Linked DNA regions of Homo sapiens. The protein of the gene in region 1 interacts with the protein of each later gene in a pairwise test. Each region holds a gene or a part of one and is shown on either strand. Other genes may lie near its edges.

What was found.
Region 2: the proteins of SIGLEC9 (region 1) and NCS1 interact in binary tests that used the Homo sapiens proteins (3 or more experiments, as listed by UniProt).

What each region holds. Positions count from the first base shown.
Region 1 is NC_000019.10:51,123,371-51,127,118, forward strand, and holds the start of SIGLEC9 (sialic acid-binding Ig-like lectin 9 isoform 2 precursor), read left to right. Parts: upstream 1-1,535; 5' UTR 1,536-1,604; coding exon 1,605-2,025; intron 2,026-2,226; coding exon 2,227-2,505; intron 2,506-2,710; coding exon 2,711-2,758; intron 2,759-3,659; coding exon 3,660-3,748. UniProt on the Homo sapiens protein: Putative adhesion molecule that mediates sialic-acid dependent binding to cells. Preferentially binds to alpha-2,3- or alpha-2,6-linked sialic acid. The sialic acid recognition site may be masked by cis interactions with sialic acids on the same cell surface.
Region 2 is NC_000009.12:130,175,271-130,178,918, forward strand, and holds part of NCS1 (neuronal calcium sensor 1), read left to right. Parts: intron 1-3,648. UniProt on the Homo sapiens protein: Neuronal calcium sensor, regulator of G protein-coupled receptor phosphorylation in a calcium dependent manner. Directly regulates GRK1 (RHOK), but not GRK2 to GRK5. Can substitute for calmodulin. Stimulates PI4KB kinase activity.

The DNA.
Region 1 (3,748 bases):
TGAGAGGCCTGACTGAGCCCCTCCTGCTCAAGACAGAACTCAGATGTGGACACCCAGCCCTGCAGAACAGATGCAGGACAACACTGTCAGCCATGGCTCAGCCCTTCTGACCATTGCAGTTGAGATGCTGCAACTTCCCAGGGAGCGACTGGGCAAACATGGGGGCCTGAGGTATTCACGGCAACGTGCACAGATGATAAAACTACCTAGAAAAGCATGGAGACCATTAGCGTTAAAGTGAGGCTGGGGCTGCTTCAGGAGGAAGTGGGGTGTGGCTGACAGGAAGTGGGGTAACAAAGAGGAGGTGTTGCGGCATCCCCAGTGTTCTGTTTCTCTAAGCATGTTCATATGTGTAAACCGCTGAGATTTTTTCTTGGGGGGAAGACATTTTTATCTATATGGCTTATATTTCTCCCAAAAATATTTCTAGAAAACTGACATCGGTCTAAGGAGGCTCCACCACACAGGATACTCCCAGTTCCTCCCAGCCCAGCCACACAGTTACAAAAAATCTTCTGCTGAATTCAGGTGCATGTTTCTTCTCCCATGAAATCCTGCCCATCGCGGAGGGTGCATGCCCCGGGGCTGGTGTCCTCACTCCACATCTCCTGTTCACCGGGACCCCTGGGAGCAGAGCTTGCAGAAGCAAAGCCCCAGGGCCAGCTGATCCCTCATGTTCTGGAGTAACCAGGGAAGTGTGGCTGAGCGAGACATCGGTGGTGAAGAAACCCTTCGTGGTGCAGTGAGGAAAGGAGAAATATCTTCCCTTTTGAAATCTGCCCCTTTTCTTCCGAATTTCCTCCCTTCCAAGCCCCACAGTACAACAGTCACAGCCTCAGTTTCCCAGACCTCCTGCGAGCCAGGCTCCCCTCTGTGTCCTTGGCGTGTATCAACACATAGAATCCTCACCTCCACAGCCCCATGTCCCTCTGCTCAGTCCTCCTGAGATTGAACCCCTGACCTACGGGAGAGTGACCCCATCCTGCCTGTGCCCCCCAACTGAAGCTCCTGCCGTGGACAGCTCAGACGTCAGGAGCCTCCATGTCTCCCCTCCGCACAGTGACCCCTTGGGGACAGTGTCCAGCTCTGCTGTGTTGACCTCGTTGTGCAGAAAGGGGGTGCCCACCTCGTGCTTGCTTGGGGGGGATGAGAGGCTGCCTGCTCACCCCACCTGCACCCCCATCTCTCATGGCCCCAAGTCCCACCTCTGAGCTACGCAGATATCCACAGCCTCTGACTCAGGGGTCTGGCCAGATGGGACTCATTTTCACCCTGCAGAAAATGTCACCTAAGGGGAAGGGCATTGAGAGGGAGGCAGGAGGTGGGGTGGGCCCTGCATGGGGTGGGAATCTGGGTGAGTCTGTCTCCCGCTCTGGCCTCAGGGACCCAGGAGTGAACATGGGGTGGTGGACGGTGGATCTCCCAGGGCTGACCCGGGCCTGACAGTGTCTGGGTGTAAAGTTCCTCCTCTGAGGAGGTCACTGTTCCGACCTCGCCCCTGTCTTCCTGTAGGGCCTCCTCTAAGTCTTGAGCCCGCAGTTCCTGAGAGAAGAACCCTGAGGAACAGACGTTCCCTCGCGGCCCTGGCACCTCTAACCCCAGACATGCTGCTGCTGCTGCTGCCCCTGCTCTGGGGGAGGGAGAGGGCGGAAGGACAGACAAGTAAACTGCTGACGATGCAGAGTTCCGTGACGGTGCAGGAAGGCCTGTGTGTCCATGTGCCCTGCTCCTTCTCCTACCCCTCGCATGGCTGGATTTACCCTGGCCCAGTAGTTCATGGCTACTGGTTCCGGGAAGGGGCCAATACAGACCAGGATGCTCCAGTGGCCACAAACAACCCAGCTCGGGCAGTGTGGGAGGAGACTCGGGACCGATTCCACCTCCTTGGGGACCCACATACCAAGAATTGCACCCTGAGCATCAGAGATGCCAGAAGAAGTGATGCGGGGAGATACTTCTTTCGTATGGAGAAAGGAAGTATAAAATGGAATTATAAACATCACCGGCTCTCTGTGAATGTGACAGGTAAGGCACAGGCTCCAGGAAAGGCCACAGGGAAAGGTCATGGGGGCGGCAGGGAAAGGCTGGGATGGAGCCCCTGCCCCAGGAGAGGGCTTAGGGTGAAGCGAGTTGGCTCAGGGCAGGAGCTGGACCAGAGCCTGAGCTCCCCCCAGGGCTGCACCATGGATCCTCTGACCTGATCCTGAGTCCCCCTCTCTTCACCAGCCTTGACCCACAGGCCCAACATCCTCATCCCAGGCACCCTGGAGTCCGGCTGCCCCCAGAATCTGACCTGCTCTGTGCCCTGGGCCTGTGAGCAGGGGACACCCCCTATGATCTCCTGGATAGGGACCTCCGTGTCCCCCCTGGACCCCTCCACCACCCGCTCCTCGGTGCTCACCCTCATCCCACAGCCCCAGGACCATGGCACCAGCCTCACCTGTCAGGTGACCTTCCCTGGGGCCAGCGTGACCACGAACAAGACCGTCCATCTCAACGTGTCCTGTGAGTGCTGGGCCGGGACGCCTGGGTCCCTGATGGGGTGAGCGTCAAGCCTGGACACTGGGTGCTGGGTCCCGGAATCTGGGCTGGTGGTGGGGTCAGGAGGACACTGGCTCTGCCTTCCCTGTTTATGCGGCTCCTGGGGACAGACAGGGCCAGTGTCCCCAGCCCTCACAGTGATGCGGGTCTCCATGTCTTTCTGTCCCAGACCCGCCTCAGAACTTGACCATGACTGTCTTCCAAGGAGACGGCACAGGTAGGATGGAGCTCCCTCCCTGGGGCTGGAGGAGCAGGGCCTTCAGGTCAGGATGGGGCTGGCTTATTCCTCAACCTGGACTCACTTTGGCAAACAGGGATGTCCTTGTGGGTGAACTCAGGGCCCCTCTGTATCCTTAGGCCCCAAGGCCACTTGTTCCCATCCTCCCATCACCTCCCTTGGACTCCCCCACACACCCCCCCCTCAGCCTCAAACAAGAAGAGGGTGGCATTCACACAGCAGGACCAGGCTTTGAGGCTCCTTCTCATGTATCTCCTGAATACATCTCCACCCTTATCTGTTTATTTCTGATAGTTCTGATCTAAGTACTTCTGGACAGGTGATAAATGTCCATGGGCAAAAATTCAAATTGCAGAGCAAAGGCTCTCCTCCGATGCCTGCCCCCCTCCCCAGAACCAACCACTGTCCATCCAGGCTGCCCTGAGTCTCGGTTTGTACACCTGGAGGATCTCAGAGGTGGTTTGACGTCCGTAGTGAGACTGTCCGCACCCTCCTCTAGGGCTGTGTGTGAGTCCACTGCATGGATGGACTCTGATTTTGTGGCATCTCCTAATGGAAGATCACGGCACTAATTTCATCCTACGGCAGGATAGAACAATCTTGTATCTACTTCCACAGGAATATCTAAGCCTGTGGGTTAAGTTCCTAAAAGCAAAATGTAGCTACATTATATGTTCTTTCTTATTTTGAAAGATAAGCCCAAACTGTTCTCGATGAAGCGGGGAGAAGTTTACATTCCCAGCAGTGAGTGGTGAAAGTGTGTGTTTCCAGAACTTCAGTCTATGTCTGTGTGTCAGTTGCTGTCATCAGTCTCTTTCTGTATCCTTCCTTTTTCTCCAGATCTATGTATCTCTCTGACCCTCTGTCTCTTTTTCTACAGTATCCACAGTCTTGGGAAATGGCTCATCTCTGTCACTCCCAGAGGGCCAGTCTCTGCGCCTGGTCTGTGCAGTTGATGCAGTTGACAGC
Region 2 (3,648 bases), on another chromosome or scaffold:
GCCCCCAGATGGGCTTCCTTCTGATGGGGAGTGGAGCCATCTGCTCTTTGTTCTGGGGGATTCTGTGTATGGGGTCAAGAGAAGCGCCCCAGGAAGGACTCTCAAATGTCAGAATCTCCTGGTTGATTAATAAACATGAAGGTACCTGGGCTGCCCTCCCGGATTTCCGATTCTTTAGGTCTGGCTGGGGCCCAGGAATTTGCATCCTTGACACGTGTTTGTGCTGCAGATGGTGGTCCTGGGGAGCCCGGATTGAAGACCACAGTTCCAGTGTATGCTGGGGGTCCTAGCCCACCTCATGCATAGCTGGCCACAGTGCCAAGGGGGCCTAGAGGGGAGCCATGGGTCCACGTCCGAGTCGGTGCTGGGCAGTGTCCTTGGTGGGCGTCTCTGGCTCTGTCTGTGGTGGTCTGTGTGTGTGAGGAAGCAGGAGTGTCTAAAGGCCCCAGCAGTGTGGCCCTCACTGGACACACTGGGATTCCACCTGGCTCAAACCCTAACCCAGTCCTCAGCCTTCCACCAGCAACAGGTTAGGGAGAGATGGACAGGGTCACTCTGCAGCCAAGACTTAGACAGTGGCAGTCAGCATTGCGGGCGGCCCAGTTTCTTTCAGGTCTGGCCCACTCTCTTCCAACCTGCTGGTGAGGCTGTTGGCTTCCCCGTGTGTCCCGGCTGTGGGATGGGCCGGTCCCCTCACCTACCTGAGCCTCAGTTTCCTCATCTGCAAAATAGGTGTGCTCATGGCACCTGAACTCAGAGGATGTGAGAAGTCAACAGGGTAACTCATGTGCAGTGTGGGGCCTGATATGTGGCGTGGGGTATGTGGTCAGTAAATGCCAGTGATCGTAATTAATGCTTATTTGTTCATTTTCTTTCTTTCTTTCTTTCTTTCTTTCTTTCTTTCTTTCTTTCTTTCTTTCTTTCTTTTTTTTTTTTTTTGGAGACAGGGTCTGGCTGTGTTGCCCTGACTGGAGTGCAATGGTGCAATCATGGCTCACTTAAACCTTGACCTCCTGGGTCCAAGCAATCCTCCTGCCTCAGCCTCCCCAGTAGCTGGGACCATGGGTGTACAACACCACACCTGGCTAATTAAAAACATTTTTTTTGTAGAGTTAGGGTCTTGCCCTTTTGCCTGGGCTGGTCTCAAACTCTTGGCCTCAAGCAATCCTCCTGCCTTGGCTTCCCAAAGTTCTGGGATCACAGGCCTGAGCCACCGCACCCGGCCTTAATATATATCATTTTGACCATACAATACAGCTTCATCTTGAACTGGGCTTATGTGTATTTTGTGGGCAAATTTCTTCTCTCCACAGAGGAATCTTGCTGACTCTGGTCTTTGTGCCTGGCACACAGAAGGTGACATCTATGACTGCTGTGCCTGAATCCCAGCAGGGGCCTGCTCTTACGTGTAGCGGCCTCCGCAGCCCCACTTGTGAATTGTGAAGCTGCCCTGGCCTGTTCATTAAGTGCTCACTGTGTGCCAGGCATGGAGACAGAGGAGTGGACCAGAGAGATGGAATCCCTGGCCTCAGGAGGAAAGCAGCCGGGTTATCCGAAAACTCCAGCATGGGGGTGCAAGCCATTTGTGGTGGTCTGAGCTGCATCCCCTTAAAGGCTTCTGAGGCCACTGCAGGCCCAAGCCAGCCAGGCCCAAGAGGCACAACCTCTGCCCTCCTCCCTTCTCCTTCTCCTCCCCATGATGTTTGCGGTCCTTCCCAGGGACCCTCGGTCTGGGACTCAGGGGTGGCCACCTCCTCCCTGTTGCCTTTGGTCAGCCCAGGCTCTGCCTTGACCTTGCCTGCCAACCTTGACTCTCCTCTGCCTTTTCCCTAATGCCCAGAATGGTGCCGGCACACAGGAGCAGGTGGAGGGCAGGAGCCCACGGCTGACGCCTCTGTGACCCCGAGCAGAGGACGGGTCCCTGGCTCCAGGTTGGGGTCAGCAGTTGGGTTCTTGGGTGTCTCTGGTTGTGGACTGTCCTGGGGCCCATGAGGGCCCCTTCCTCTAGGGTGAGGAATATTCTCTGATCATCACTCCCCACCCAACTCTGCTCAACCAGGGTGGGCCAAGCTGCTGCCTTCAGGAGGCAGTCACTGGAGACCATCTTGGGACAAAGCTGGGGGTTGTGTGATGGCTGCGTGGGGACATGGAGGGCCCACAGCCAGGCACAGGGTGAGCCACAAGGAGAGGAAAGGACCAAAGCAAGGGAGGGGCTTCGGCCGTCCCTGTACATCCCGTGTGCGTGGGCATGAACCAAGGAGGCCTTTCCTTTCTCTGACAGTGGAGCAGAGCAGCAGCAGGAGAGACTGAGGTGGACTCTCGGCATCGGGATGGGCATCTGGGCAAGAAACATCACCTGTGTTATTAGGAGAGGACTCGATCCCCTGCGGTGCGGGGCTGGGTCCTCACTCGGCCTTGGTGACCTTGGGGAAGTCCCTTGGCCTCTCTGAGCACCAGCTTGCTCATCCTTCAGACCTGCCTTCCAACTCCATGGATCTAAACAGGAGAAGCTTTGCAGTCCGGGGAGCGGGCCAGAAAGACAAAGGGGTTGTTTGGCAGGAGAGTCCCTGGGAGGGAAGGAGGGCTCAGGGGCGAGTTCTGCGGTTCTGGCCCCTTCCTTGGGCAAACCTCCTCTCACCGGCTTCACTTTCCGCCTCTGGAAAATGGGCAGTTTTGGAAGGCCTCAGTGTTGAGGAGGATTCGGGGCATATGAAGGGTTTAGCTTGGTGCCTGGTTCTGAGGGGAACCTTTATTTATTTATATTTTTATTTCTATAGAGATGGGATCTCGCTATGTTGGCCAGGCTAGTCTCGAACTCCTGGCCTCAAGTGATCTCCTCCCATCTCGGCCTCCTGAAGTGTTGGGATTACAGGCATGAGCTGCTGCGCCTGGCCATGAGGGGAACCTTTCAAAACTTTCCTGGCAGCAGCTGGTCCTTGGGGTGCAAGTCTTCCGCATCCAGGGCAGGTGGCCTGTGGCCACCCCCTTGTACAGAGAGGGAAGGGGCAGCTGGTGAATGGCAGGGACTCACCCAGGCCCCAGAGCCCAGCCTCCTCCTCACAGGCTCTTTTTGCCCTTTCTGCCTCCTTGGGCTCCAGGTTAAATGGGACCCAGCTTCTCCCTTCCCTACATCACCCCACAGAATTCTCCCATCACCCCGTGTCAGGGGAAAGCCCTTTTCCCCGGCAGAGGCCTTGGGATCGGACCCAGCTCCTGCTGCTCCCAAGGCCTGTCTTAAACCCCTTTGGGGCAAGGCATGGGCAGTGGAGGGGGGTGGTGTCCTGTCGAGTGGGCCGGGCCCATGTCACCCTCTGAGAGGCCACAGGAAGGAATTTGGACATTATTCGAGATCCGTAGGGAGCCGTGGAAGGGAGGTGATGGAGACACATTAGATTTGGGTTTAGAAAAATTGTTGTTGGCTGCAGTCCCGGAATGGACTGGCGGGGAAGAGGGGTGGTAATGAGACCGAAGGTGATCATGGTGATGAACTGGAGTATCGGTGGGGATGACATGAAAGACAGATTCCAGATATATTTAGGAGGAAGACTCAGTAGGACTTGGTTTCCCTCCCCTCCCCTCCCCTCCCCTCCCCTCCCCTCCCCTCCCCTCCCTTCTTTCCCCTCCCCTGCCCTCCCCTCCCCTTCCCTC